4 linked regions of the Homo sapiens genome follow. The protein of the gene in region 1 interacts with the protein of each later gene in a pairwise test. Each region holds a gene or a part of one and is shown on either strand. Other genes may lie near its edges.

Region 1 (7,398 bases):
TACAATTATTACACTCAGTTCTGTGATAGAAGGAGTGTGTGCTCGTGTACCTAACAGAAAACCTGAAAATCAGGTAATGTGGTCATAGAATCCTCCTAGAGAAAAAGATACCTAATCTAAATAATTCATCTTCAATTGAGATTAAAAACAAACAAACCTGAGATGGAAAGAGTGTGATTTGCCTGAAGATGCAAGGCTAGTTAGGGTCAAACTGAGTCCGAGGCGTCCCTAAGCCTAGCTCTCTCTCACCTCACCATGCAGCCTCTAGTCCCATCACTACAGCAATAGAGGTGTTCAACTCTTGGGCAACATCCGAATTGAAGGTCACACTTACACAGAGCTGTATCTGCAGGTTCGTAAGCATAGAGACGATTTGAATATCTTCCAGTGATATCGGCTCTAACTGTCAGAGATGGGTCTGCAAAGATAAATGAAGCAAAAGGGAATGGAATGGTTTGTTTTCAAACAACCTGTATTTATTGCCCCGGGGAGCTGAAGTTCATGTATTCATGTCCTGTGAGGGAATGGAGTGTGTCTGCACTCACAGGAGCTCTGATCCATCCACTCTACTACCCAGCCCCTGGCAGTTAGTAGCAAATGCAGGGCTGGAAACATCAACAGCTGTGCAGTGCTATTTGTGGAAAAGGTTATGAACCCTTCTGTTCTATCTATGGCAACCTGAAAACAGAATAATATATATTTAGGGGTGACATGGTGTTTTTTTTTTTTTTGGTGAAAACATTAACATTCTCTACTGCAAAATTATTTTAAATTCTTGAAACGATTATGTTGTAGTTTACATGTTTCTAGATCATTGGAAACCCACATCCAATGCTAGTTTTCAAAACGAGTTTTTTAAAAAAAGTTAATAGAGGAATGCAAGTCCTTAACAACAGCAAAGTTCAAATAAGCATATAGTACCTTCACTATATTTTACTTTATTGTTAATTAACTGCATTTTTAAAAGTAGAGATTGGTCTTCTCTTATGTATACTTATATCCCTCTAAATTTAAATCCATCTTGCCATGTTTTGTATTTAACTTGAAGTGATCTAATTAATGAGAAAAAGAGGTATTTTAAAATTAAGGTGCATCCAAAAGGGAAGCGTGAGGATACAGAGAGATCTGGAAACCTTGCCTTGAGAGACGTAATCGAAAGAACCTAGGACACGTGCCCTGAAAATGAGACAAGGAAGACATGTGAGAACCATCTGCATGTTTGCAAAGTCTGTCGCTGGTACTGGAGTGGGCAATCTGTCATTTCAGAATGTTGGACTAAGGCCAGACACATAAATTACAAGAAGCAGATGTACATTTATTCACCAGATTTAAGACCAACTATACTTCTGTTTGGTGCAGAGGATACAAAGACACGGTCTAATCTTTGTAAGAAATTAACCTAAGAAGGGCTTTTTAAATACCCAACTAGCAGCTCACCTGGCTGCACATTGGAATCATCTGGAGAGCTGTAAACACTATGGATGCCTGCCTCCCACCCCCAGAGATTCTGATTTAATTGGTTTGAGGTGTGGCCTGGGCAACTTGATCTTTAAAATCCTCCAGGTGATTCAAACATGTAGTCAGGGTGGCTACTACGGAGCTAGAAGAGCAAGCTGCCTTGGAGCTGGTTCTTAGGACTGAAGGAATTGAATGTGGGTTAAAATGCCCTTCCACAGGGATGCTGTACAAAGAATTCCTGTACAAGGTATGAACAGACATCTATAAATTCCCTTTTAATGTTAGGATTCCAAATGTCCTAAATTCTGACAAAACTAAACCTATAAAATTAGTGCTTTAGTTCAGCCTTCTTCCTTTTTTTCTATTTCTTGTTTTTCTTTTCCCTGCTTTGTACATTCAGTGTAAACTTTTAATGAATTACACAGGTGAATCATATGATTAGCATGAATTGTTGTAAGTGATGGATTTCATTATGGATTGTCCTTAAATCAGTATGACTTTGAACAAAGCCAAACTCAGTACATTCATTCAATAATTAAACACATATTGATGGAGAGCCTACTGCAGGGTCACGTTGGGAATATCATGGTGAGCAGAAATAGGTACAGTCCCTGCCATAGGGGCTTATAGTCCAATGTGGGAAATATTTATTACATAACCACCCCCAAACTGCAAAATTATACCTGAGGAAAGTATGACTACAAGAGCACATAGTAGGGATTTGACTCGGTCAATGAATAATGATGATTGGGGAGTTAATGATGTGAAATTGGGGGACAGAGAAGGAAGTGGGGAAAGCATATGAAAAGTACCAGTGGCAGGAAGGAGCATGTGGCTCCTTTCATTTCTTTTTCCCACCTCATATTCCTTTTTTTTTTTTGAGACAGAATCTCGCTCTGTTGCCCAGGCTGGAGTGCAGTGGTGCCATCTCGGCTCACTGCAACCTCTGCCTCTTGGGTTCAAGCAATTCTTGTGCCTCAGCCTCCCAGGTAGCTGGGATTACAGGCTCCTGCAACCACGCCTGGCTAATTTTTTTTTTGTATTTTTTAGTAGAGATGGGGTTTCACCTTGTTGGCCAGGCTGGTTTGGAGCTCCTGACCTCAAGTGATCTGCCGGCCTTGGCCTCCCAAAGTGCTAGGATTACAGGCGTGAGCCACCCAGCCTTATTCCTAACTTTCTTAAAAATAATGATAAAAAATGTCAGAAAAATCTAACACACAAAGTGAAAGTTTGCTGGATTAAAAAATAAATATTTGCAGGCCTCTCGTATTCAGGAAATTTATCAATATGTTTAAATAGTGAATAGGGTGCTTTGTTCTCAGAAGTATTATAGCAGAAGATGAAAAGTTACAATTAGCATGTGAGAAAAGAAAGTGTTGTGTGGAAATAGGTAAAAGCTCACATTTTCTAAAGAAAATATGTTGCGGAACTTAAAGGAATGTCATGCTCCTTGCTAGAGCTTAGTGATGACATTGGCCATGGCAACGTGGCAAGGGACAGTGGGGAGGAGAGAAGGAGGATGGCAGCACTAGTATGTGTTTCCGAGTTATCTCACTGTCACTTCCGCTTACCAACAAACATAATCCTGGGGACATACTGGCCATCAGGAGAAAGGTGTTTGTCAGTTGTTTCATACTAAAATAAAAAGAAAAGCATCTTTTAGTTTACTTTGACTTTTCAGTCGTTTTCAAACTTGTTAATACAAGAATCTGTCCATTTCCGGCCAGGCATCTCAAGATATCATAACTCTTCCACACAGAGTTTATTGTACAGATGAGGAGACAAGTTACAAGCATGAAATAATAAATAAGATAGAGCAGAACATGAGATAAAGTGCTGAATGGATGTGATAAAGAGCAAAAAAATTAAGGGAGAATTTGGAAGGAGTTACTGTGTTTGGGGAAGACATCTGGGATGAAATAAGAGGCTATTAAGGAAAAAAGCAGATGTCATTTCTAGAGAAATTACGGAGACAAGTACGGGATTTTCTTGAGTATTCATTTATCCATTTATCAATTTTTATTTAGAACTGTATTTAGCAAGGCATGGTGCTTATCTTTAATGAATGCACACTCTATTGAGAGATACAGGTAGGAAAATGAATATTGAGGATGCAGTGGGTGAAATGTTACGGTGTAGGATATGCAGGTTTGGTGATTGCCTTGAGCAAGACATTTAGCCCAGAATGCAGATTCCACCCCGACTAGGACTTTCTGAAGTGGATAAGGAGGAATCTTTACAAATGAACAGGAGTCAGTTAGGTGGAAAAGAAAGACACTTCATGCAGGGGGAAGAGTATGGAGAGGACAGGTGGAGCATTTTCTCCTATGGCCAAGTGCTGGGGAAGGACTGAGTTGGGGGGATGCACGAGGGCAGTGGCGAAAGAAGGTGCTAGAGCTGCTTCAGGGGCCGGCTTAGGAATGACTTTGCACACCATGCCATAGTGTTTTCCTTTGTTCAGAAATAGTTAAGAACCACTGGAGGGATGTTAGAAGAGGCACTGTGACCCCAGTTTGGTCTGTAAAGCAACTTCTCTGACAGCCATGTGGGATTAGACAGAGTTTATCTTGTAGACCAGGAGCCATTTAGCAGTATTACAGTAAGCTAGGGAAAGTGAAAGAGGCTTACTAAAATAGTGGTCCTGAGTTTATAGAGAAGTGACTAGTAGCAGGAATACTTGGAATTTAGAAGCACAGGGCTTATTGCATGCTGTAGGTAAGTAGGAGAGTCCAATCTAGCACAGTACCACTTTCAGTAAAATAGGGAATAGAGAAAGAAGAGCTATTGGAAAAGCGCAAACCAAGATGATTAATGTGCAGTGAGGAACATACTGAGTTTAAGCTGATTATGAGATATCTGGAATATGGTTGGATAGACAATTTGGAAGTTGTTTCATGTTTGGGTAAGATGTAGGAATTATTAGTGTGTCGGAATTGATTAAAGGCAGTTGTAGATGGAGTTGTTCACTGAATACAAAATATGGAAAGAGAAAAGGGTCAAGTAGAGATTCATCATGTCACTCACATTAAGGAGTAGGAAGAGGAAGAGGAAGAGCCCATGGAAGAGAGGCAAGGAAGAACTACTGGTGCGAAGTGGTCTTTAAGGAAGCCAACCTGTGAAGAGGAAGGGCCGGAGGGCTCAAAAGGACATATGATTAGGTAGAGTCATTTTTTTGTTGGCTTGCTTTTAGAAGGAAAATGAAACATTTGTATACAGTAAAAAGAACTTGCCGAGACAGAAAGCTTGAGCACCGTGAGGGGTGGTAGTGGTGAAGTAAGGTGGGAATGCATGAAGCTAAAGCACAAGAGGCATGATTAGAGTTGGAAAGCCAGAGAGCTGTCTCTTCCCAAGAGATGACCAGGATTAAGAATGGGTGTAGAGAAGCCAGGACTATAGAGGGACAGGCACAGCAAGTAACAAAAACCTTCCAGCAACAGAAAAAATTCTGACTACGGGAGATAATTTTTCAGACAAACTAAGATGATTAATTACTAAATAAAAACAGACACACCAAATGGATTATTAATACAACGAAATATCTTTTTTCTCTCTAATTTATGAGATGGGATATTTGGAAGCAATCCCAGTTAATGCAGTATAACTAAGATGTATAGGAAAAATGAATCATCCATTTCAAGTAATGAGCCATAGAGAAATGTTAGTAATGATGAAAAGGAAACTTACAACCAGATTGAGGAGGACAAACTGCTCTGCCAATTTCTGGATTTCTTTATTTTCAGCAAACACTTTCTTTAAAGCTATAATATAAAGAAAAATCATTAAGCATCCATCTTAGCATTGGTTAAAAGCTTTGTTCAATTTTCAGTTAAATTGCATTTTATTTACTTATTGAATTGCATTTTAAATACAGTATTCTACTTTGGCCTTTTAGCAAATGATTAGTGAAGTAATATCTATGGCATTGACTACCTCTGCTTTCTATTCACTCATTCATCCATTCATTCATCAATTCATTTTTTTCTCCAGCTCATATTTATTGAATGGCTGCCATGTGTTACGCACTGTGTTCTGTACTAGGGATGGTGCAGTGAACAAAAAAAAGCATGTGTTTTTTCACAGAGCTCACATACTTGTGTGGGAGACAAACCATAAACAAAGAAATAAGTAGATGATACTTTCAGGTAGAGATATGTACTTTGAAGAAAAATAAAGCAAAGCAAAGGGTTTAAAAACTGTGAGTGGTCAGGGCAGATCTTCCTGAGGAGCTAACGTTGAAGTGAGGGAGTGGTCCATTTTGGGGTAGGCCACTGTGGGCAGGGGGAACTGCAAAAGCACTAGCTGTGAGGTGGGAATGAGCTCACCTGTGGGAGGAACAGCACGAAGGCCAGGCTGGAGAGAGTGAAGAAAGCAAGAGGAGAGTGGTAGGAAGGGAGAGATAGCCATTGGCCTGATCATGTCAGCCTCATAGGTTGTGATCAGAAATTTGGATTTAGTTCTGTGATAAGAAGCCACTTGAGCACGTGAGTGATGGAATCTGATTTATGTCTACCAGCCTCACTCTGGCTTCTGTGTGGACTGGCTGTAGGGTGGCCAGTTAGGTGACTGTTATGGTAGTCTAGACAAGATCTGATCTGGGCTTGGACCAGGGCAGTAGCATGGAGGCAATAGGAAGTGGTTGGATTTGGGCCCAGTGCAAAATGAAAGGGTAGAGCCCCTTGTTGAAGAATTACTAAGACTTTTAAGACAATGATAGCCAAGTTTAAACCAAGTTTGGGAACCTTCTAAGCTTGGGGCCCTGTGAGATGGCACAGGCTTCATGCCTGTGAAGCTGGTGCTGGTTTAAGGATATATTTTGAAGATAAAGCCAGTATTTGCTGGTGTATTGAATGTGGACTGTAAGAGAAATCAAGAAGTTGAAGATGAATCCTAAAACTAGTTTTTCAAAATATGTACCAATGGTTATCACAAAATGTGGAGATATTTGAAGTCACTTTTAAATATGTTTTTACTATATAAAATATTCTTTCTTTAATGCAACTGTGGTTCTAAAGATACAAACATGAGTGATCTGAACCCTGGCCCTAAGGCTAAAAGCCTATAAAGGAAATCATACTTAGAAGAATAAATTACCTTGACTGTGTGGGCACTCATCCAAGTGATGAATAATCATCAAGGGTTTGTTGCTTTAAAAGACAGAGATTAGACAAATTTTAATGAGTAAGATTTCACATATATCTAGATGTCACTAGGTGGTGCTCTTGAGAGCTTTGAGGGAGCTCTGAGTAATCCTGATCTTTACCTTGTCTTGGATTTATATAGAGCTTCTTCATATGTCTGAGTCCAGATGAGTTGGTCACCCCAACCTAGAATGAAATGAATCAGTATATTTGAAGCTTGTATAAATTCAGACCCAAAGCTGTTGAAAAGCAATGGTAAAGACTGGGATAATAGACCCTATACTAAAGAAGAAGAAAAACCCCTGGAGAAAGTAGAAATAATTATAAACAGTGATAAGTCTAGAAGGAACACAACCAAAAATAACCTGGCACCAGGTTAGAACCAGGTTTAAGCACCAAGAGAGAGGAAATCTTTTCCAATTAAGTAGCAGTTGGAAGCCAACAAGAAGCTGACTCCTACCTCTGGAGAGGGTCTGGGGCAGTTTGGGTCGAGAGTCCTTTGTGTCCTTTTTGGCTCCAGGTTTGACTGTGGTATCTCTGGCCAGAGTGTAGGAGAGGGCCACAAGGAGCAAGAATGCTGACACTGGAATTTTCTCCATGGCAACTCTAGTATGGAAAACCAACCAAAATCAGTAAACAAAATTGAACTAGCAGTCTTCAGGGTCTGCAGGTTGCCCCACAACGGTGGAATATACCAGAAACTGAGGCTCTGCTGAGACTGGACATACGAGATTGGCGTAAATAGCTCTGTTCCATGGGATTTTCCTAAGAATACAGGTGGTCTTTGACTTACAATTGAGTA
Region 2 (7,741 bases), on another chromosome or scaffold:
AATAATTTTATATACATCTTGACTATTAGAAATAATGCTGCAATGAACATGGAGTTTAGATATCTCTTTCAGATACTGGTTTCATTTCCTTTAGATATATAACCAGAAATGGGATTGCAGGATCATGTTGTCATTCTAATGTTTAAGTTTTTGAGGAACTTTCATAGTGTTTTGCATAATGGCTGCGCCAGTTTGCTTTTCCACCAACAGTGTGCAGGGTTAACTTTTATCTACACCCTCACCACCACTTATTTCTCAGCTTTTTGAAAATAGCCATCCTAACAAATGTGAAGTGATATCTCATTGTAGTTTTAATTTGTGTATCACTGATTAGTGATGTTTAGCATCTGTTCATATACTTACTATCCATTTGTATGTCATCTTTGGAAAACTGTATGTTTGTGTCCTAAGCCCATTTTTAATATCAGGTTATTTGTTTTTTTTTTCCTATTGAGTTGCATGAGCTCCTTATATATTTTAGATACTAATTTTTGTACCAAATGTATGGTTTGCTAATATTTTCTCCCATTCCATGGGTTGCCTTTTCATTTTGTGATTGTTGCCTTTACTGTGCAGAAGTGTTTTTCATTTGACCTAATCCCATTTCCCTATTTTTGGTTTTGTTGCCTGTGCTTTAGGTGTCATGTCCAAAAAATAAAGCCAAGACCAATGCCAAAAATATTTTTCCTTCTAGGAGCTTTATAGTTTTGGTCTTTTATTATGTTTCAGTTTTTAATCAATTTCAAGTTCATTTCTGTGTATGGTGTATGGTGTAAGATAAGGATCCAATTTTACTTTTTTGCATGTGGATACTCAGTTTTTCTAGAACCATTTATTGAAGAGACCATCCTTTTCCCATTGTGTATTCATTAAGATCTTGTCAAAGATTAGCTTACTACATATATGAGGGTTTGTTTCTAGACTCGTTCTGTTCCATTGGTCTATGTGTCTGTTTTTATGCCAGTACTATACTGTTTTGATTACTATAGCTTTGTAATATAATCTGAAATCAGTAGCATGATATTTTCATCTTTGTTCTTGTTTCTCAAGATTGCTTTGGCTATTTAGGGTCTTTCATGGTTCCCAATGAATTTTAGTGTTGTTTTTCCTATTTGTGTGAAAATGCTGTTTAAATTTTGGTAGGGGTTGCACTGAATCCATAGATTGGTTTTAGTATGGACATTTAAAAAAATTAATGCTTCCAATCCATGAACACAGGTTATCGCTTTCCATTCATTCGTGCCTTCTTTAATTTCTTTCATTAGTGTCTTATAATTGTTAGTATACAGATCTTTAATCCTCTGTGGTTAAATTTATTCCTAAGTATTTTATTCTTTTTGATACTATTTATTCCTTTTGATACCATGAGATTGCTTTCTTTTTTTTTTTTTTTTTTTTTTTTTGAGACGGAGTCTCGCTCTGTCGCCCAGGCCGGACTGCGGACTGCAGTGGCGCAATCTCGGCTCACTGCAAGCTCCGCTTCCCGGGTTCACGCCATTCTCCTGCCTCAGCCTCCCGAGTAGCTGGGACTACAGGTGCCCGCCACCGCGCCTGGCTAATTTTTTGTATTTTTAGTAGAGATGGGGTTTCACCTTGTTAGCCAGGATGGTCTCGATCTCCTGACCTCATGATCCACCCGCCTCGGCCTCCCAAAGTGCTGGGATTACAGGCGTGAGCCACCGTGCCCGGCCTGCTTTCTTAATTTCTTTCTTAATTTTTCACATAGTTCACTGGTACTGCTTAGAAATGCAACTGATTTTTGTATCATGCAACTTTATTGAATTCATTTATTATAACAGTTTTTCACAGAGTCTTCAGGATTTTCTAAAATCATATCATCTGCAAACAGAAACAATTGAACTTTTTCCTTTCTGATTTGGATGCTTTTTATTTCTTTCTGTTGCCTAATAGTTCTGTCTAGGACTGCCAGTACTATGTAAAATAGTAATAAAAGTGGTAAGAGTGGGCACCGTCTTCTTGTTCCTGATCTTAGAAGAAAAGTTTTCAGCTTTTCACTATTGAGTATGATGTTAGCTGTAGGCTTGTCATATATGGTCTTTATTATGTTGAGGAACATGATTTACCACTTGTAGTAAAAATCTGATATACCTGGATTGTCAGTTTTGCTCTGATGCTACCAATGTTATTCCCATTCCTCTTCCTCACTTTGTGACAGAGAGTTTAGCCTCACCTGTTTTCTTCCCATTGTCCCCTCTGTGCTATAGTTTTACATTTGTTTGGGGATTGTTACTTCTTTCTCCCAGGAATTTTATTTAAGTCCTCTCATCACTTTGGCAAGTTTCTATCCTTTGGAAGTAACACACCTGTTTTTCAGGCATGAGGAAACTAATCCCTTTTTCATCAGTATCATCAAAGAAATTGTGAGTTTCTTTGAGTGGAATTTCAATTGGCTGAGAGAGGGAGGACACACAAACACACAGAAATAGGAATAACGGTCATGTTTGGGTATTAAAAAGAGATAAGCTTGAGATAAACTTTGCAAAAATAAGGTAATAGAGCACGTGATTACATAGGGTGAAGGAAGGCAACCTAGGAAACATTAAGAAAACTGATATGACCTGTGAATCCTCTATAGTCACTGTTCTTTTACAAATGTAGCATAGACATGACTTATCTAACACAATGCAAGTTGTCTCCAGGGCCTCATTGAGGATAGAGTTTTAGAATTTAGAATTTAAGTAACTTCTATATTTTGACTGCCTATTTCAAACCATCATGGGCCATTTAACCCTGGTGATATTTGCATGTGAAATGCGCTCTCATCAGTAATCTGGTGAAATTATATGCAAATGCCAAGGGTAACTTAAATATCAAACCTGTAACTGAAAAATATTTTCCAAAGTTGAAAATCATCTCTATTGTCAAAGAGTTTGAAGATTTGACTATAGTTCGTTACCTTGCAGGTGACCTTAGTCTTATTTTTTTTTTTTTTTTCCTGTCTAGGATCAAAAGTCAGACCTTCTATTTCTAATTTTCTTTTTTTTTTTTTTTTGGAGATTCTACATTATTCCTCTCTCCTTTTCTTTTTTCTCTCCCTTTTTTTTTTTTTCTTTTGAGATAGAGACTTGCTTTGTTGCCCAGCCTGGAGTGCAATGGTGCAATCGTAGCTCTTTGTACTCTCAGGTTCCTGGGCTTAAGTGATCCTGCCACATTGGCATCTCAAGGCTCTGAGATTACAGGCATGAGCCACTGAACCCAGCCCCCTCCTTTTCTGTATGTCACTGTGAATGAGATACACACCTATTTTTCTGGATGACTGGGGCTAAAAGAATAGCATGATGTTCCCAGAACTTTTTAAAACATACTGTGATTGCACACTTCTTTTTACATTATTGTAGTACATTAGATTACTTTAATTATTTGGGGTTCATAAATTTCACTGAAAACTGCTAGAAAAGAATCTTTGCCTTACATTTATTATCATTCTGTGCAGTGTGCTATGCATATTTTTAATATGCAGGTAATGTTAAATTAGGTAATTAACAAAATTTACATAATGTTTTTCATATTGAAAGATGACCTTTCAGGTCATGAAAGTCAAAATGACTTTTTTTTATATTGAATATCCTTCAATTGATTTTAGAGTTCTTTGTTGAACGAAGTGGCTTTTTTTTTTTTTTTTTGAGACAAAGTCTCCCTCTGTTGCCCAGGCTGGAATGCAATAGCACGATCTTGCCTCTGCCTCCTGGGTTCAAGCGGTTCTCCTGCCTCAGCCTCCTGAGTAGCTGGGATTACAGGCATGCACCACCACACCCGGCTAATTTTTTTTTTGTATTTTTAGTAGAGACAGGGTTTCACCAGTTGCTCAGGCTGGTCTCAAACTCCTGACCTTGTGGTCTACCTGCCTTGGCCTCCCAAAGTGCTGGGATTACAGGCATGAGCCACTGCGCCCAGCCCTGAAGTGGTTTTTCAACTTCCATAACCTGTGTCCATGTCCTTGATTTTAATAACACCATAAAGATGTTATACTCTTAAATTGAAGCTTAGAGTTGGAAAGAACCTAGCAGATGTTCTTGTTAGACTACTGTCATTTTACAAGGCTAAATAACTTCCTCCAAATCACGAAGTGCCTGACGTCAAAGCCAGTGTGAGGACTTGGTACACTTGGTTCTCAATCCAAGGCAAAGATGACAATGCAGACTGCTAATGATCAGATCCATATTTTGGAACAAGAAAGCCCATCAGTCAAGAAGTGATACCAGCTTAAGAGGAATCTTTAAATATGGAAACAGCTCTTTTCTCAAAGTGGATAATAAAAGCATTTATATATAACTACCTACCTGTGCTTGATTTTTAAAAACCCTGCTCTTAGGCAGGAAAGTGAGTAAAAAGCATCTGATTTTACCAGCCATCAAGGCTGCCCAAGTACAAAGTTAAGTCAGAGGAACTGAGCTAAAACTGCCCACAGAAAATGTGATTTCTCAGAGAAAAATGTACCCTCAGCCTGGGAGGAACATAAGTACAGAATATCCAATTTCTCAGGCAAATTATTTAACTTCTCTGGGACTCAGTTCTTCGTCTGTAAAATGGAAATAATATTATCTAGTTCTTAGTGTTGTAACTAGAATTATATGAAGTGATACAGATAAAAAACTTAGAACAGGACTTGACATATGTTCAGAACTCAAAAATTAGATATTAACTTCAATAATACCCTGTGAAACTAAATAATATTGTATATTCTGCTATAGATGAAGAGGTGAGTCACAACAAAGAGGACATGCCAATATAGAAGAAAATTTAAAAAGGAGCTCTAAACAGGAATAAAACATGAGAAAAGAGACAGTTTGTGCCTGGGGTCAAATATCTGGACATTAATGGTTGGCTTTACCCAGTTCTTTTTGTGGGTATCACCATGATTAATTCTTCCACCACTCCAACAATTCCATTTGTTGTCCAAGATCCCAGATAGATTTCAAATTATTTGGCTTCCCCTCTAGTTGTCTCATTGTAGAAATAGAGCTTAAATTATTTTTCCTGTTTGGCAATGCAAGACCTTGTAGCAGAGGTGTGGATATAGTAGTTGAGCAGTGATGATGTCTTACACCACAAACTTTGGTGCAGATAATTGCCCAAGCATTGGCCATTGTTGTTTCCCACATAATCAGAGATGGGAATTTTTTTTTCTTTTTAATATATGTTAACTATGATGGAGGCTCAGGGAAGAAAGATGGTAACAACCTATGGAATAATGAGGGACATGCAGAAATTTTACCCTCTACCCAGAAAATATACCCAGCCAACAATCTCTATCATTTATCTAAGACTTTGTTTAGATCTGCATCCTTCTGAGCCCTTTGCGTAGACTAATAAAAACAACAACCCCACATGGTAGATCTTACTATTACCTCCACTGAGGCATATTAATAGGCTGCCTTAAACCCCAAATCCTTCATTTGTATTATTATAAAATATTATTATTTTTGCTGTTAAAGATTATGTAACTTAAGAAAGAAAACTATAGGTAGCTAAAATATTATGAAGGGTGGTATATCTGATTCAAAAACTACTAATGTCATAATAACAGTTACAAGCTAGGACTTTAGCAGTTAATGGCTTTATTAAATGTACTATACACATATGCACAATGTTGTATATATATATATATTATAACATGGGCATACTATGTGACAAGGATGTTTTTCTATATTATTATGAGACGTAGGAAGCAAACTGGTAGTGTCACTTCGGGACAGTTAACATAAGTGAACAATCTGGGTAGCTTCTGTTCACAAGAAGACTAAATCTACAGTTATGTGTTTGTTCAACCAAAGATGACATTTGTCGTGGTTGGAAGAACTACCTATGCTGAGGTTACCATAACATTCCTTATATTTGCTTATTAGTTTTTGTTATTAGTTAATTAGTTAGTTTTCGGGACCTAAATGTTGGGTGGCTTACATAAGACAGGGTTTTATTTCTCTCTCATTTAGGAGTCTGGAGATGAATAGGTTCCTTCTAACTTGTTTTGTCCCTGCCACCTAAGCGATTATCTACATAGGGCATAGCTACCCTTTTAAGCAAGTGGGAATTGCATGTATCACTTCTCTTTATGTTACATTGTGGGTAGGTTAAGTCCCATGTCCAAAACTCACTGCAAAAGAAGCTTGGAAATGTAGTCTCCAGCTGGATGGCCATATGCCCAGATTAAAGTGCATTACTATGGAAAAGGAGAATGAAGTCAGAGGGACAGCTAGCCATGAGGCACACTCAGCCAATTATGATTTCTTCATGTGTAGTCTATGCCATATATGCCATTCTTGAAAGCAAGATGTTTCCACACATAGAATCTAAAGGTGTGTTTTCCAGCTACTTCTTAATGAGGTGGAGAATCAAGTCATGTGTTAAATATTTAGACTTGGTAATAATTAGTGCGTATCAATCAAAACCACAATGAGATACCATCTCACACCACTTAGAATGGCGATCATTAAAAAGGAAACAACAGGTGCTGGACAGGATGTGGAGAAATAGGAATATTTTTACACTGTTGGGGGGACTGTAAACTAGTTCAACCATTGTGGAAGTCAGTGTGGCGATTCCTCAGGGATCTAGAACTAGAAATACCACTTGACCCAGCCATCCTATTACTGGGTATATACCCAAAGGATTATAAATCATGCTGCTATAACGACACATGCACACGTATGTTTATTGCGGCACTATTCACAATAGCAAAGACTTGGAACCAACCCAAATGTCCATCAATGATAGACTGGATTAAGAAAATGTGGCACATATACACCATGGAATACTATGCAGCCATAAAAAATGATGAGTTCATGTCCTTTCTAGGGACATGGATGAAGCTGGAAACCATCATTCTGAGCAAACTATCGCAAGGACAAAAAACCAAACACTGCATGTTCTCACTCATAGGTGGGAATTGAACAATGAGAACACTTGGACACAGGAAGGGGAACTCACACACCGGGGCCTGTCATGGGGTGGGCGGAGGGGGGAGGGATAGCATTAGGAGATACATCTAACGTAAATGATGAGTTAATGGGTGCAGCACACCAAGCTGGCACATGTATACATATGTAACAAACCTGCACGTTGTGCACATGTACCCTAGAACTTAAAGTATAATAAAATATATATATAAATAATAATTAGTGCATATCAACTCTATTAACGACAAGTCTTCCAAACTGGTCCTACATTTCTTACATAGTCAAGAGCAATACCTTCAACTGTGTTGTATCTTCCACAATGCTTAGCATCATTTAGGAACACAATGAATACCTGTTTAATTGAATGTTCTGAATTATATGGAGAGATTTGCTATTTCACATGATACTGCAAATCATTCACCTCTTTTTTCCTATCACTTCTCATTTCCAGTTTGATCACTCATGGCTTTGGGACTCCGGCAATATGTGCAGCTCTAAGCACTTTCCAAACAGTTCTCAGTGAAATGCTGAACTACTTGGAAAAACACACTACTCACAAGAACGGCGGAGCGGCGGATTCTGGCCAAGGACATGCCAACTCGGAGAAAGCTCCCCTGCGGAAAACTTCAGAGGCTGCCGTGAAAGAGGGCAAAACAGAAAAGACAGACTAGCTACATCAAACAGAATCTATTTCCAGAGAGTCTTGCTGCTGATATTTTTTCTAATATATATATCATTGAGGGTGACTAATCTTCAGTGGACCAAATCTCTACCCTTCCCCAACCCTCCATAAAAAAACAAAAATGGAAATGAAAAATGAAACA
Region 3 (8,281 bases), on another chromosome or scaffold:
GCTCACTGCAACCTCTACCTCCTGAGTTCAAGCGATTCTCGTGCCTCAGCCTTCCGAGTAGCTGGGATTACAGGTGTGCGCCACCATGCTTGGCTAATTTTTGTATTTTTAGTAGAGAGGGAGTTTTGCCATGTTGGCCAGGCTGGTCTCAAACTCCTGGCCTCAAGTGATCCATTTGCCTTGGTCTCTCAAAGTGCTGGGATTACAGGTGTGAGCCATTGCACCAGGCCCTAATTTTAAAAGTTTCTGTAGAGATGGAGTCTTGTTATGTTACTCAGGCTGGTCTCAAACTCTTGGGCTCAAGCAATCCTCCCAACTCGGCCTCCCAAAGTGCTGGGATTACAAGTGTGAACCACTGTGCCTGGCTTTATTTTCTTTCTTTTTTGAGGCAGGGTCTCACTCTGTCACCCAGGCTGGAGTGCAGTGGTGTGTTCACGGCTCACTGCAGCCTTGACCTCCCAGGTTCAGGTGATGCTCCCATCTCAGCCTCCCGAGTAGCTGATACTACAGGTATGCACTACCATGTACAGCTAATTTTAAAATTTTTTGTAGAGATAGGGTTTTGCCATGTTGCCCAGGCTGGTCTTGAACTCCTGGGCTCAAGGCATCTGCCCACCTAGGCCTTCCAAAGTGCTGGGACTATAGGCACTGTGCCTGTCCTCAGGCCTCTATTTTCATGTCAGTATTTTATAAAAGGTGTATGCCTTTTATACGATTAATTATTATAATTACAATGGATGCATACTTTTGATTTTTTTCATTTAAAGTGAAAGGAATTTGTGATTTCATAATTACCATTTTGATGGCTGTATAATGTTCCTTCAATGACATTTTAGAGGTCTGTAAGTGGATACAGCTGATTCTAGAATAACTAAAGGAAGAAAAGAAACCACTACAGGACAATAAACTTTTTCATAAAACCCATCTTCTTTTACCACAGCAGGATCATTGTAGAGTTAAGCAAGCACAGGAGCAAATGAGCCTATCAATAATTTTGTCTTTTGAAGTTTAAATACAGACAAACCAATTCCAATATGTTGCTTTTTGTCTACAATTTTATGTAGTCACGTTTCAACCTCGGAGAGAAAATGAGAAAATTTGAATTATATCCTAAGAAGAGCAGGGTTAAACTAGAGGGAGATACGTTTATTTTGTTGATCCTTGAAATACAAGGACTCTCTTTGTAGATAAACCAGCAAACTAAAAACCAATACATCACCTTGATGCACATTGTTTTCTTTGAATCTTCAACAATAGATAATGAAGTCAAGAGTAAATGATGCTTTTATTCATTGCCATTAAATCTTAAAAACAGACTGAAGAGCTCTAAGTTATCGAAGCAAGTTTTTCTCTTCTTTTTTAGCATTCTTTAATAATTTAATACTTTTTTAAAAATTATTTTTATTTTTTTGAAACAGTGTCTCACTCTGTCTCCCAAGCTGGAGTACAGTGGCATGATCTTGGCTCACTGCAACCTCTGCCTCCTGGGCTCAAGCGATCCTCCTACCTCAGCCTCCCAAATAGCTGGGACTACAGGCATGCACCAGCTAATTTTTGTAGATACGTGGTTTCACCTTGTTGGCCAGGCTGGTCTTGAACCCCTGAGCTCAATGATCCCCCGGCCTTGGCCTTCCAAGGTGCTGGGATCACAGGCATGAGCCACAGTGCCCTGCCAAATTTCATGGTTTCAAAGCTTTGATTTACAAGTCATCACAAATATCCTTTAGTACAAAGGGTGCTGAAGTGGTTAATTACCTGCTTTAATTGAAGTGCTCTCATTTGTTTAAAGTTAAGCCCTACACTGATGAGTGAGGTAAGCTATCAAATAAGATGAAAACAAATTTCCTGGAACTGTAGGTTTGAGTTTCTGTAGGAAACATAACTAGAAGCAAAAGGCGAAATGGCTCCATCAGATCTCATGACTGAGCCAAGGACATTTTTTTAAGCTCTTTGATCTAGTGAAATCAGTTGATTTAATGAAATCTAATAAGATCTGCTGAAATCAGTTCTTCAGCTCAGGCAAGCTAAAAGCCTCTTGCCACCAACAAAGATGTCTCTAGTTTGGTGATATCCAAATCAATTGATCAGGAAGCTAAGGACACCAGGGCTGCAGGACTTCCTTTGGATTAATTCAGTAAATATGTATTGAGGTCCTACTTTGTGCAAGACAAAATACCACATACCACATACAGCCTCCATGAGTTATTTATTTCAGAGTCTGGCTCTGTCGTCCAGGCTGCAGTGCAGTGGCGAGATCTCCGTTCACTGCAGCCTCTGACTTCCGGGTTTCAAGCTATTCTCTTGCCTCAGCCTCCTGAGTAGCTGGGATTATAGGCATGTGCCATCATGCCTGGCTAATTTTGTATTTTTAGTAGAGACAGGGTTTCGCCATGTTGGCCAGGCTGATCTCGAACACCTGACCTCAAGTGATCTGCCTTGGCCTCCCAAAGTGCTGGGATTACATCCTTATTTAAAGGCATATCTTGTCTATCCATGCTTTTCAGACCAGACTTGGCTCTTTGCATGGATCCTGCTGGCAGTTTCCTGTATGTTCCTATCCAGTGAGAAGCTGTTTTTGGCCTCACACCAGGCTGTAGGGGCCAGATAGTGACGTCAGATCTATCCAGAGCACCAGCCAACTTAAGGCAGGTTCCTGGGCTAAGGGGCTGGGGCTTTCTCTGTGGAGGGGGAGAGAGGAGGAGAAAGGGGAATGGATGGTAAGGAGAGATGTGGGTCTCTGAATCACATGGAGACTCTGGAAGTGCTGACCATCTTCTACACACCACATTCTCATATCATCCTTGGTTAATAATCATAACAACAGTATGAAGCACATGGTACTGTTTAACTGCATTTTACAGATAAGGAGACTGGCTAGTGATCCACTCAAGGTCACAGAGTAAGTGGTGGTCATGGGATTTTAATTTCCTCTCTAGGTCTTTTTTTTTTAATTTTTTTTTTTTTTAAGACAGAGTTTCGCTCTTGTTGCCCAGGCTGGAGTGCAATGGAACGATCTCGGCTCCTTCCAACCTCTGCCTCCCGGGTTCAAGCGATTCTCCTGCCTCAGCCTCCCGAGTAGCTGAGATTACAGGCATGTGCCACCACGCCCGGCTAATTTTGTATTTTTAGTAGAGACGGGGTTTCCTCCATGTTGGTCAAGCTGGTCTCGAACTCCCGACCTCAGGTGATCCGCCCGCCTCAGCCTCTCAAAGTGCTGGGATTACAGGCATGAGCCACCACACCCGGCCTCCTCTCTAGGTCTTTAAAAGCCTTCCACCTCACGCCTGTAATTCCAGCATTTTTGGAGGCCGAGGTGGGCGGATCATGAGATCAAGAGATCAAGACCACCCTGGCCAACATGGTGAAACCGCCTCTTTACTAAAAACAGAAAAATTACGGGGCGTGGCGGCACGCGCCTGTAATCCCAGCTACTTGGGAGGCGGAGGCAGGAGAATTGCTTGAACGCGGGAGGCGGAGGTTGCACTGAGCCGAGATTCGAGCCAGTGCACTCCGCCACTGCACTCCAGCCTAGGTGACAGAGAGAGACTTCTTCTCAAAAAAAAAAAAAAAAGGCCTTCCACCACCGCGCAAAGGGACCCAGTAGGATTTCAGGTCCAGAGTGAATCATACTATGCCCTCCACTCCCACATTTTTACACGACGAAATCTGTCTAGCATGTACAACTAATAAAAATAGTAGAGGGAAAAGAGGTCATGGATAGGCAATTTATAGCCAGACAGGTGGGAGTGTAGGTTTTGGCTCCACCATTTTTTATTTTCTTGATGAGGAGCCCTTTAGGTCATTTTAGAAATAGTGTCACTGCCTGCCTTCCCGAGTCTTTGCCACACCAAAGACTTGTTTCCTCCGCTAGACAAAAATATGGATGGCTGTCCCAGTTCTGTCTCAAACAATGATCGTGTAGAATCAAATAAGGCCCTCTGTAAACTATAGCACTTTACAAACTGGTAAGGTAGCAGCCATCCTTCCAAGGTATCAGGGAACAGCGAAGCAGCTGATTAAAATAGTCTTGATTACTTGAGATACAGGAGGGTAGGAATAACATGTGGTAACTGAACTCTATAGATACTATCTAAAATCGCATTCTAACAGGCAAGTTTAATCTTTCTGAGATTTGCCTCTTTGTAGAGCTCTAAAAAATAAAAGGAGAGGGGCGTAAAATGCCAGTAAGATTAGTTAAATTTCTTCTCCTTTTGAGCCCTGCCCATAGGTAGATGGAATTAGGGCAGAACAAAAACATTAAGAATAAAAGCCCGAACGAGATGCGCGTACAGGTGAACACAAGTGAACACTGGGGTAAGGAAATGAGTTATGCGGAAAAGGCTTCAGACCATCCCTGGGAACTGCTCCGGGTCTGGACATTTCCTTTGGCAACCTTCCAGAGTCTGAGTCCCCAGGGCTCCCCCCGGCGGGAAAGGAAAGGCGCGCGTGGCTAGGCGCGCGCGTACACGGGCACTCACGTGTACACACACACGCGCGCACACTACACATACACACAGGGCCCATTTCCTCCGCTCCCTCCCCGCGGGGGGCGGGTCTCTTTCTCTTTAAAGAGCAGACGGTCTCCGCGCACACCCAGGCTCTCAAGGCCTCGGGGGCCCGGGACCCGAGCTGCTCGTAGCCAATGGGAGCAGTGGAGCGGCTCGAGCGCGGCTGACGCTGCACCAATGGGCGATCGTGGGGGGCGGGGGCAGCAGAGGAGACACTATTGTTGATGAGGAGCGGCGGCGGCGGCGGCGGCGGCTGCACCACCTCGTTGCTGCCTGCCCCGGCCCGGTCTCCCCCTGCACCCCGGAGTCCGGCTTCGTCACCCCGTCTTGGGGGGCCTGCCCTCCGGCCTCGAGAATCCTCCCCCTGCAGCCCAACAACAACAAAACCCCCCGTCTCGCCCAGTCACCGGGGAGGGGGGGGACCATGTCCCAGCGGGTGAGGCGCAATGGGTCCCCCACGCCGGCCGGCTCCCTTGGGGGTGGTGCGGTGGCCACGGCCGGGGGACCCGGGAGCCGCTTGCAGCCCATGAGGGCGACGGTTCCGTTCCAGCTGAAGCAGCAGCAGCAGCAGCAACATGGCAGCCCCACGCGGAGCGGCGGCGGCGGCGGCGGCAACAACAACGGTGGCTGCTGTGGTGGCGCCTCAGGCCCCGCAGGCGGCGGCGGCGGCGGTGGCCCGCGCACCGCCTCGCGCAGCACCAGCCCCACGCGCGGCGGCGGGAACGCGGCCGCGCGCACCAGCCCCACGGTGGCCACGCAGACGGGCGCGTCCGCGACGTCCACGCGAGGCACCAGCCCCACGCGCAGCGCCGCGCCTGGAGCTCGCGGGAGCCCCCCACGGCCGCCGCCGCCGCCGCCGCTGCTGGGCACCGTGTCGTCGCCCAGCTCGTCGCCCACCCACCTGTGGACCGGCGAGGTGAGCGCGGCCCCACCCCCAGCCCGCGTCCGGCATCGGAGGAGGTCTCCGGAGCAGAGCCGAAGCTCGCCGGAGAAGAGGAGCCCCAGCGCCCCGGTTTGCAAAGCAGGTAAGTGCTGGGGGTCGCGCAGCAAGGGGGAGGCGGCTGCGGGAAGGGGTCCCGGGCGCGCGCTGCAATCGCGCGGGGACTGCAGAGCTGCCGCGGAGCCCGGGTGGCTGGGGGCGGGGCTGGGGGCGGTGCCGGGCGGTGGGGGACCCGGCAGTGCGGCCCCGCCTTTCCCGGGCCTACCCTACGCCCCGCCCGCCCGCCCGCCTCATTCACCCCTCTGCCCGCCCCGCACGGCTCCCTGGTGGTGGAGGTGCAGCGGCTAAACCTTGGGCTTGAGCTGATGAGTGTTAATGATAAACCTGGCTTCCTGGCCTTACTCCTGGAGGAGTCGTTACTGCTTACCCTCCCTTGAGGGTGAGGCTAGGAGTGGTTTGTCACTTTGTTTTAGGGACAAGGTTAATGTTGGCATAGCCCATATCTGCTGCTGCTAAGTATTTCTGTTCACAAAACAGTTTCAGATCTGGGGTACTGAATGCATTAGCAGTGGCAGATTTGGATCACTGAACAGAGGAGGCTGAGAACCGTGTTTTAGCATTTCCTAAGACTTGATAAATGGGTAGCAAGAAGTGAAAATTAAACAAGATTCCTTAGGAAGGTTTATGGGTTTTGTCTGAGGCTCTGGGTGTATTTCTGATTTTGTGTACTGATTCTGTGTTTTGAATGTAGAAAAACAGAATCCAGTGTTTTGTCTCCATCTTGTTATTGTTTTAGGGAGCTAACATTCGTTGTTTTTCTGTTTACCTGGAAGCTTTCTTGGGGAAGGTCCTGAATGGAGCTGTTGGGTGCCAATGGAGTCATTCATAAAGAGTAACTCAAAAGAGAAATTCAAATTGTGGGAAGTGGAAAGGAATAAAATTTATAATCTTGTTGCCTTAAGGAAAGAAATGGGTGGTTTTTACTTACGTATTCATTTTTGTCAACATATATCTTTGTCTTTCCTTGTCTGGGGAACTTCTGTTAGAATTTTCCAGGCAGAATGGTTGGGAATTTCAGGAAACAAATTCAGATGAAATAGTTTCCGAAATGGAAGGAATAGGATGACTCTTTCTTACTATTTATTTTATGAAAGTTTTAGATAATACTTATTTAGAGAGAATTGCCCTGGAAAATGATGAATAGTATTTTCTTTTTTTGAGACAGAGTTTCTGTTGCCCAGGCTGGAGTGCAGTTACACGATCTCGGCTTACTGCAGCCTCCAACTCCCGGGTTCAAACGATTCTGCCTCAGTCTCCTGAGTAGCTGGGATTACAGGCGACCGCCACCATGCCCGGCTAATTTTTGTATTTTTAGTAGAGACAGGGTTTCACCATGTTGGCCAGGCTGGTCTCGAACTCCTGACCTCAGGTGAAACGCCCGCCTTGGCTTCCCAGAATGCTGGGATTACAGGCATGCGCCACTGCGCCCGGCCCGAATAGTGTTTTCTAATTAGAACCAGAGCACTGTTTTATTTATGTATTTATTTTTATTTATATTTTTATTTATTTTTTGAGACGGAGTCTTGCTCAGCTGCCCAGGCTGGAGTGCAGTTATGTGATCTCGGCTCACTGCAACCATGGTCTCCTGGGTTCAAGCGATTCTCCTATCTCAGCCTCCCGAGTAGCTGGGATTACAGGCACCCGCCATCATGCCCGGCTAATTTTTGTATTTTAGTAGAGATGGGGTTTCACCATGTTTGCCAGGATGGTTTGGAACTCCTGACCTTATGTGATCTGCCCGCCTTGGCCTCCCAAAGTGCTAGGATTGCCCAGCCCAGAGCACTATTTTAAACCTTTTGAGAATGCAGAATGCTTTTCTAAAACTGTGATAAAAGTACTAGATTTCCCCTCCCTGCTTCATAACCTCTGTCACCTACTGAACTCTTACTATTTGGCAGGTGGTTTTTATGCAAAATCTCATTTAACCCTCACTATAGCTTTTAGAGAGGTTAAGTAACAAGTGGCAGAGTTGGTATTTATTTGAACTTTGGTCAGTTGTACTCCAAAGACCATGTCTTTATATTATATCAAGGAAGTGACATCATGATGTGTAAGATAGAATGTGGGAAATATATAGCACACCAAAATTACATGTACTTAGTTAGGTAACTTTTTTTTTTTTTTTTTTTTTAAGATGGAGTCTCACTCTGTCACCTAGGCTGGAGTGCAATGGGGCAATCTTGGCTCACTGCAACCTCTGCCTCCCGGGTTCAAGCGATGCTCCTGCCTCAGCCTCCCGAGTAGCTGGGATTACAGGCATGCGCTACCACGCCTGGCTAATTTTGTGTTTTTAGTAGATACAGGGTTTCTCCACATTCGTCAGGCTGGTCTCAAGCTCCCAACCTCAGGTGACCTGCCGACCTCGGCCTCCCCAAAGTGCTGGGATTACAGGCATGAGCTACCGCGCCCAGCCACTAGTTAAGTAACTCTTACAGATATGAACAAAACTGCTTCAGTCCTTCAGCCTTCTGGAGCCAGCATAGTGCATCAGGTGGAAGGGAAGGAGCTGGCTTATAAGTGGGCAGTAGAGGTGGCAGAAGGAGGCACAGCCTGTAGTCTGATAACAGAATCTGGCTCTCTTAACAACTGTTTGACACTCAGAGAAACACCCTGAGGAGAACTGGGTTGAATTAAGTATTGGCAAGGTGTGGAGGAAGGTACTCTTTTTCTCTGATCTCTAGGAGGGCTCTATTTCCTGGGATGTCAGGCTACTCCCATGTCCTCTCTTCATGGTTTTTGAACGCTCCCCTTCCCTAGATCATCCCGTAGAGTA
Region 4 (7,903 bases), about 110 Mb from region 1:
TTTACATAAAATGCTTCTAAAGACAACCCAGAGATTTGGTTGAACCTACAGTGTGCAGGCAATGCAAATTCAGGTATTTAAATCATGGGAAGTTGGCCTTCGGTTCCCTAACAAAATTAGACAAGTGCATAATTATCGTTTAATAAAACAAAAAACCTACAATTTGGGGTCCTAACGACATACACAGGAATTCAGAAGGAAACCTGAAATCCTTTCTCCTTTAAACCTTCTATATCTGGACAAGGGCCCTCATTATCTTCTACTTCTATAGCTCCTTCTCTTAACACAGGAGCTAAATTTCCTTGAAACATGTTATGAAGCCACTGCCAGCACGGTGGCACTTGCCTATAGTCTCAGCTACTGGGGAGGCTGAGGTGGGTGCATTCCTTGAGCCCAGGAGTTCAAGGCCAGCTTAGGCAACATAGCAAGATCCCCATCTCTAACTTAAAAAAAAAAATTATATATATGTATGTACACACACACACACACACACACAAATACATATTTTTATAAGAAAATTATTGGGCCAGGCGCATTGGCTCATGCCTGTAATCCCAGCACTTTCGGAGGCCAAGCCCAGCAGATCACCTTAGGTCAGAAGTTCGAGACCAGCCTGGCCAACACGCCAAAACCCCGTCTCTACTAAAAATACAAAAATTAGCCGGGCATGGTGGCCCACGCCTGTAATCCCAGCTACTCGGGAGGCTGAGGCCGAAGAATCGCTTGAACCCAGGAGGCAGATGTTGCAGTGAGCCGAGATCGCACCACTGCACTCCAGCCTGGGTGACAGAGTGAGACTCCGTCTAAGAAAAGAAAAAGAAAAAGAGAACTATTTCCACAAAAATTGCCGACTTGGGGATAAGAACTTTTCTTTGTTACAGGAGACTATGACCACTGACTACTAAGCAAAAAGTCATTTTCCCTCCTATATGTCGAGTTTGAGGCTGTGTGAGGAAATTAAAGGACTTCAAATAAGGATGGGCCAAAAGATTAAGTAGAGTTTTTGTTTTTGTTTTTTTAGATGAAGTCTCGCTCTTGTCCCCCGGGCTGGAGTGCAATGGCGCGATCTCCATCTCGGCTCACTGCAACTTCTGCCTCCCAGGTTCAAGCGATTCTCTTGCCTCGGCAGCCCCCGCCCCCGCCCCTCCCAGCAGCTGGGATTACTGGCGCCTGCCACCACGCCCAGCTAATTTTTGTATTTTTAACAGAGATGGGCTTTCACCATGTTGGCCAGGCTGGTCTCGAACTCCTGACCTCAGGTGATCCACCCCGCCTCGGCCTCCCAAAGTGCTGGGATTACAGGTGTGAGCCACCGCACCCGGCCGTAAAGAGTTTTCTTAATCTGATTATTGTTTTTTTTGGTCATGGGCCCTGTTGAAAGCCACTAAGTCCTATCAAAAGAAAAAAAAACCCCTTGACACAAAAAAATTCTGCCCACAATTTAGGATCCAAGTTAAGAATAAATATTCTACATTGCATGTGATAATTATGTCTGCTTTCGGACTCATAAAATAAGGAAATTACACTCAGATGCACGGAGAGAACTAGTCATATTTTCACTGTCTTACGGGGTAACCTGTCAAGAACTGTCAAATACAATTTTAGGGAGTCGGGATACTAATGAATCAAACACACACACACACACAAACAGCATCTCCAAGACTCCAGCACCCCCCTTTCCCAATTACTTACTGGTCAAGCCCAAAGGAAAAATAATTTTTTAAAAGGCTAGGCTGAGATGGAATGGGAAAAAGGATCACTGTGAGCACAGATGATGTCCCGGGACAAAAGCTCTGCCCAACACTGCCCAAGCTGACAGGCTCACTCACACTACCTTTCTCCTTATGCGTCTCTCAATACGCAGTCTCTGAACACTTAAAAAAATGTGAATTTTGCTCTGACCACATAAAGAAATCAGCACGATTGACACCAGCTCTAAAATAAGCAATTAATATATTCTAATCTAATGCTTAAGAAGAATGGAGAGCAGGCAACAGCTCCTCCAACTGGTTGGAGCAGATATCACTGGAAGCCCCCCAAGTATTAAGATTTTTAAACAACTTCAAGTTCTGGTGGGCACAGCCAAATACACTGCAGAAACTTTGGGACCAGCAGCCACGACACAACAGGTGAGAGAGGCAGCAGACATCATTGCACGATGGAGTGCACAACATTCAATGACAAACCCGAAAAGGTCTGGGGATATGGGAAAATACCATGCACACGGCCATCTCAGAGCCCCTGTCTTTCCAGTGGCAAAAGGTTCTGTTCCTTCGGAGGGGCGTGCCACTCCCCCTCTCCCTCACCCAGGGGACCACCACCCCAGGCACAGGAAGAACCGCGGCCCCTCCGCGGGCACATCTCAGCTGGGGAAGAAAACACAATGTCGCTCCTTATTTCTGCGTACAAAAGGACTTTGCGCCCTCCTCCTCGAACTGCCGCCCCGGCCACCTCCTAACTTGCAAGAAGGTGGGCAACGCGCCATATTCCAGCGTCCCCCAGTCTACCTGGGTAACAAGCCCACGCCACCCCGGCAGGAGGGAAGCTTCGGAGGTCGCCCAAAGAGCCAGCCTCCTCTCCCGCAGGAGACAGCGGCTCCCGCGCCCCAGCCCGGCCCCACCGCGCCGCCCGCCCGCCCGCCCGCGTACGAGAGCCGGGAAGGGCCGAGGGGGCGAGCCGAGAGCCGCGGCTCCGGTCCCGCGCAGCCCGCCCACCTCCCGCTCCCGGGCCCGGCGCACTCTCCCGCGCCTCCCGCTCCCGAGCTGCGGGAAGGCCGGGCCCCGGGTTCCACGGCGGGGAGAAGGCCGCGGCCCCGAGAGCCCCAGGCGGCGGAGGAGGCCGGAACCCTGGGGCTCTCGGGAGGGCAGCGCCTCCCTCCCGAGCCCGCCAGGACGCCTGGGGCCTAGTGCGGCCTGCGCATCCTCGGGGTGGCGGTTTGGCTGGGCCGGGCCGGGGCCCCCCGCCCGAGGCGGGCCGAATCCGGCGGGGGCCCAGGCCCAGAGCCGGGGGCGGCAGGGTGCCGGCTGCGGGGCGGGCCGGCCGGCCGGCGGGCGGGCGGCGTGTTGCGGCTGCGCCGGGGCTGAAATAGCTGGAGATTGCGCGGTAGGGCACTCACCTCAGAGCGGCTGCGCTACCGTGGGCCTGCGCCGTGGAGACTGCGACCGCGCCGGCTCCTCGCAGCCTCCTGCCACCAGCGGCAATGGCGAGCGCTGCCGCTTCTGCCGCCGCCGCCGCCGCCGAGGAGGGGGAGGGGAGGGAGAGGGCACGCACGCGACGCACGGCCCGGCTTCCCCGCCCGGCCGCCGCCATGATGAGGAGGTCGGCGCGGCTGTGCTGCGGGCAGGCAGCGGAGAGGGCTCGCGGCGAGGGCTCCAGCTTACCCCGCCGCCGCGTCGCGTGCACGGAGCGCTTCAGAGGTTTGGAGGGGGCCGGAACCTCAAAAGCAACTGGATGAGCACAACGCGGACGCCCCGGAGAAGCGGCGCAAGCGGGCCCAAAATGGTTGCTGATCAGACGAGTGGCATCTCTCGCCCCCCTACCGCGGGAATTGGGACCTCCAGACTGTGCCTGGGGGATCGGCAAGTGGTTCCCCTCTGGTTTTTTCGGCGCTGCCTTCCCGGTGGTATCCTCACTCTCTCTCTTTGAAATGACCTCTGCTTTCCTATCTCTAACTCTTCCCAGATATTTGAAAGCAAGTTTTTGTACAAAGCAACATATGAATGTATTCAGCCATTCGATCGTTCGGCGAACATTTCTAGGTGTCTCGTGCTGTGCCAGATATTGTTCTGAGTGCGCTGAAGATGCACCTGTTAGCAAGACAAAGTCCTGGCTCCCACGGAGCTTATTCGAAGCAATAGGGGCCCCCAAGCAGGTGCCTGAGAAGTAGGGAGGGGTGGACAGTGGGAAAACAACCTAACGGTGGAGACACACGAGGGGTCTTTTTTTACTTTTAGAAACGGGGGTGGGTGGTCACCCTATGTTGCCTAGGCTGGTCTCGAACTCCTGGGCCCAAGCGATCCTCCCGACTCAGCCTCCCAAAGTGCTGGTATTACAGGACACCATGCCCGGCAGAGGGGTCGTTTTTGTTGTTTTTTTAGTGTCGTCAGGAGACTCCCTCCATCAGAATTACTCAGGCTGATTGTTTTGAGTCCTGGGACCCAGTTGGTATCCAGAATCTTGGCTTGTTTGCCTAGGAACCTGCATTTTCACATCCCCATCTCCACACCCCTGGTGATTCTTATGCATATAATAATGTGAAAAGCATTGCATTGAAGAATTGCTAAAGGGTGTCAGAAAACGGATTAACAAAATCAGGAAGCTTTAATTTTCAAGATTCTATTAACCTCAAAATTCAACATATCCAAAAATTGAATGTCTTTTTCTCCAGTGTTTTCTAGGAGAGTGCCAACACTAGCCACCCAAGTGCTCAAGCCAGAAACCTGGAAATGATCCATTACTCTTTCCTCTGTCTCTGGAGTCCCCATGTTAAATTAGATGTGTTTGTTTGTGAGACAGATTCTCACTCTATTACCTAGGCTGGAGGGCAGTGGTGCAATCATTGTTCACTGCAGCCTCGACCTCTCTGGGCTCAAGGATCCTCCCACCTCAGCCTCCCCAGTAGCTGGGACTACAGGTCCCCACCACCACGCCCGGCTAATTTTTGTATTTTTAGTAGAGATGAGGTTTCATCTTGTTGGCCCGGGCTGGTCTCGAACTCCTAGGCTCAAGTGATCTGCCTGCCTTAACCTCCCAAAGTGCTGGGATTACAGCCGTGAGCCACTGCACCCAGCCCCAATTAGATTTTTAAAACTGTTGTTCCCTGTCAGTTCTTACTCTGGTTCAGGCTACTGTCATCTCTCCTAGAGACACTGCGGTAGACTCCTCTTGGTCTCCCTGCCACCGAAATTGCCCTCTCCAAATCCACTACAGCTTGAATGGTCTTTCAAGAAAGAAAATCATGTTTTTTCCCTGTTTAAGACTCTTAAAAAGATCTGATTAACACGTAGGATAAAGTCTAAAATTCTTTGAGGTGGCTACAGGGCCATTGGTGATCTCATCCCTGTTGCCATCTCTGACCTCATCTGCCACAGATATTTCTCAGGCTACACTCAAAACTGGGAAGCTCTCAGGTCATTTAAGCCTGGAAATTGTGCCACCTCACAACTGTTGCAAGGGCTGTTCCCTTTGCCCATAACTTCATTTCTCTCTACACCATCTATGCACTTACTTGAATCCTCACCTGAATAATTCTTACCATTCTTTCAGATCCCAACATTAATACCATCGCCTCCAGGCAGCATTTTTTCATCTCCCAAGATTGGGTGCATTAGACCCTTTGTCATCACACCCAGTACTCCCCACGTTTATTGAGCGCTCACGATGCGTCAGGCCCTAGTGGAAGCCTTTATGCACATTATCTTCTTTCTCATTTAATTATCAAGTAGAGCCCACAAGGTAGGTACTACCTTTTTTTTAACTTTTGAGACAGGGTCTCACTGTATCTCCCAGACTGGAATACAGTGGCGCAAACACAGCTCACTGCAGTCTCATCCTGGGCTCAAGCAATCCTCCCATCTCAGCCTCCTGAGTAGCTGGGACCACAGGCAGATGCCTGTTGCCCAGGCTGGTCTCCAACTCCTGGGCTCAAGCCGTTCTACCTTAGCCTCCTAAAGTGCAGGGATTACAGGTGTGCAACTGTGCCCGGCCTGGGTAGTTACTAATATTATCCCATTTTACAGATGAAGAAACAAGGACATATAGGGGTTACTTGCCCAAACCCAGACAATAAGCTAGATCTGAAAGTCATCAGCCTGACCTCAGAGTTGTACTTTTAACCATTATCAGGGTCTCAGGCCAGTACCCACTGATGAAACACATAAGTAACTTAGTGGGTCATTACCAACATTTCATTAAAGAAATAGAAAATGGCAGAGAACATCAAACTTAGTAAGGCTCTTGTTTCGTGAAACTTGTCAGATTCTCTAATATGATAAATACTAAATCTTACAAACATTGAAAATACAAAATTAAACAAAATATTACCAAGGTTAACACAAAAGTATGAATACTGCAGATCTGATTTATTTTACTATCCTCATCTTTAATGCAGAACCTTCTTAGGATTAAATGACATTTACCATTCTGAGCAAACTGAGGTTACTGCCCCAAACGGACTGGGCTTACCTTTGCAGGAGAACAGGGGAGGCTGTGTTTTGGCTGGAGATTTTTGGCTAAGAGTCAAGACACAGAGATTCTTCTGCTACCACTGTGAACACATCAAGTCCCTTTCACATAGATGCTGTTTCCACAAGGGTCTCCCCACACCCTTCCCTACAGATTAGATTCCCGTGATGCCTTATTTAATTCTTGTTGGATCTGTTGATTTGGTTATGAAGTAGGTGAAATTCTGGTAACCTCACCCAGGTTCCTTCCCCTCTTGATTAGATCCAGCCAGTCTGTTCGCTGGATGATTAAATTTGGCATTCATTTTTCTGTGCTTTCCCTATCTGCTACTATCCTAAAGTCATTCTAATGACCAAAAAAGGTGCCTTGAGCCAGACTGTAGAGGGTTCTAATGGCCTCCTTAGAAATTGTGTTTTTTTGTTTTTTTTTTGAGATGAGGTTTCGCTCTTGTTGCCCAGGTTGGAGTGCAATGGTGCGATCTTGGCTCACTGCAACCTCCGCCTCCCGGGTTCAAGCGATTCTCCTGCCTCAGCCTCTCAAATAGCTGGGACTACAGGCATGCGCCACCACGCCCGGCTAATTTTGTGTTTTTAGTAGAGACGGGGTTTCACCATGTTGCCCAGGCTGGTCTCGAACCCCTGACCTCAGGTGACCCACCCACCTCGGCCTCCCAAAGTGCTGGGATTACAGGCCTGAGCCACCATGCCTGCCAAGGAACTGGTTCTTAGTAGGCAATAGACAGTTGACAATTTTGAGCTAAGCACTAAGGTCATAGGAGTGTAGATTCACCAGGGAGTGAGTTGGGCTTCTGGTCTCTAGAGGGCGCTCAAGGCTTCTCCCTCCCCACCCTCTTCCTTCCCCCAAGGTGGAGGTAGGATGGTGAAGAAATTTCATCTCCCCACCACCAAACACACACAAAGGAAGAAAATCTTACTAAAATTGGAGAATATGGAATAACATTTTCTTGGGATGGAGCCCTTAAAAGATAACACGTTCAACAGAAAGTGCTGCGTCTTTCCCGTTCTTCAACATACTCTGAGTGGTAACAAGGGCTGCCCTTGCCTTTCTCAGAGGCAGCCCAGCCAGCTTGTTCTCTTTCCCTCTCCCACAAGGTAGCCAGGCCCTAAGGCTATGGCCCACAGAAAAAGTCTTAGCAAGGCCCCGGGCTTGGGGCAAAGAGGCTGTGGATTTGTCTTTCTCTCTACTTTTTCTGGTTAGTGTGCCTCTATCCCACTCGGAAGAAAAGTTCCAAGACTCAAATTTGGGCATTGATGTGGGGAGGATAGACAGAGATGACCAGAATCCAGCCTATCTTTCCTGACTTCTGCATTGTGGTTCATACCCAGCTAATAATAAAGTGTTCCTTTCCCTGGTGTGTCATTGCACATGTACTCCCCACACTCCTGATGAGTAGAGATGGCTGGCCAAGACAGGATTCAGACATTCCCACATCCCCAACCAAACATCCTCTCCATACCATCTTATTAATCAGTCTTTGAACAATTTCCTAAACTCCCTAACAGGTTGGAGATGGCTGGAAGAAATGAAAAGAAGAACGCCAACAAAGGCGATAAAGAAAAATTCAACACTGCTTGATAACTGATGAGATAGTGAAGGAGTAGGAGGGCAAAAGTCAGAAGTAATTCCAGGTGTTCAAGAACTAAATGCTGAAGAGATGTTAGTGTCGTTGACGGTCTTCTAATGGGAAGTGAATTTCAAT

The links.
Region 2: the proteins of AGR2 (region 1) and TFAP2D interact in binary tests that used the Homo sapiens proteins (3 or more experiments, as listed by UniProt).
Region 3: the proteins of AGR2 (region 1) and FAM117B interact in binary tests that used the Homo sapiens proteins (3 or more experiments, as listed by UniProt).
Region 4: the proteins of AGR2 (region 1) and NRF1 interact in binary tests that used the Homo sapiens proteins (3 or more experiments, as listed by UniProt).

The regions. Positions count from the first base shown.
Region 1 is NC_000007.14:16,794,602-16,801,999, forward strand, and holds part of AGR2 (anterior gradient protein 2 homolog precursor), read right to left. Parts: intron 7,203-7,398; 5' UTR 7,196-7,202; coding exon 7,057-7,195; intron 6,783-7,056; coding exon 6,719-6,782; intron 6,603-6,718; coding exon 6,550-6,602; intron 5,217-6,549; coding exon 5,143-5,216; intron 3,094-5,142; coding exon 3,030-3,093; intron 419-3,029; coding exon 335-418; intron 1-334. UniProt on the Homo sapiens protein: Required for MUC2 post-transcriptional synthesis and secretion. May play a role in the production of mucus by intestinal cells. Proto-oncogene that may play a role in cell migration, cell differentiation and cell growth. Promotes cell adhesion.
Region 2 is NC_000006.12:50,765,277-50,773,017, forward strand, and holds part of TFAP2D (transcription factor AP-2-delta), read left to right. Parts: intron 1-7,368; coding exon 7,369-7,588; 3' UTR 7,589-7,741.
Region 3 is NC_000002.12:202,630,256-202,638,536, forward strand, and holds the start of FAM117B (protein FAM117B), read left to right. Parts: upstream 1-4,713; 5' UTR 4,714-4,932; coding exon 4,933-5,533; intron 5,534-8,281.
Region 4 is NC_000007.14:129,607,037-129,614,939, reverse strand, and holds the start of NRF1 (nuclear respiratory factor 1), read right to left. Parts: upstream 3,221-7,903; 5' UTR 3,116-3,220; intron 1-3,115. UniProt on the Homo sapiens protein: Transcription factor that activates the expression of the EIF2S1 (EIF2-alpha) gene. Links the transcriptional modulation of key metabolic genes to cellular growth and development.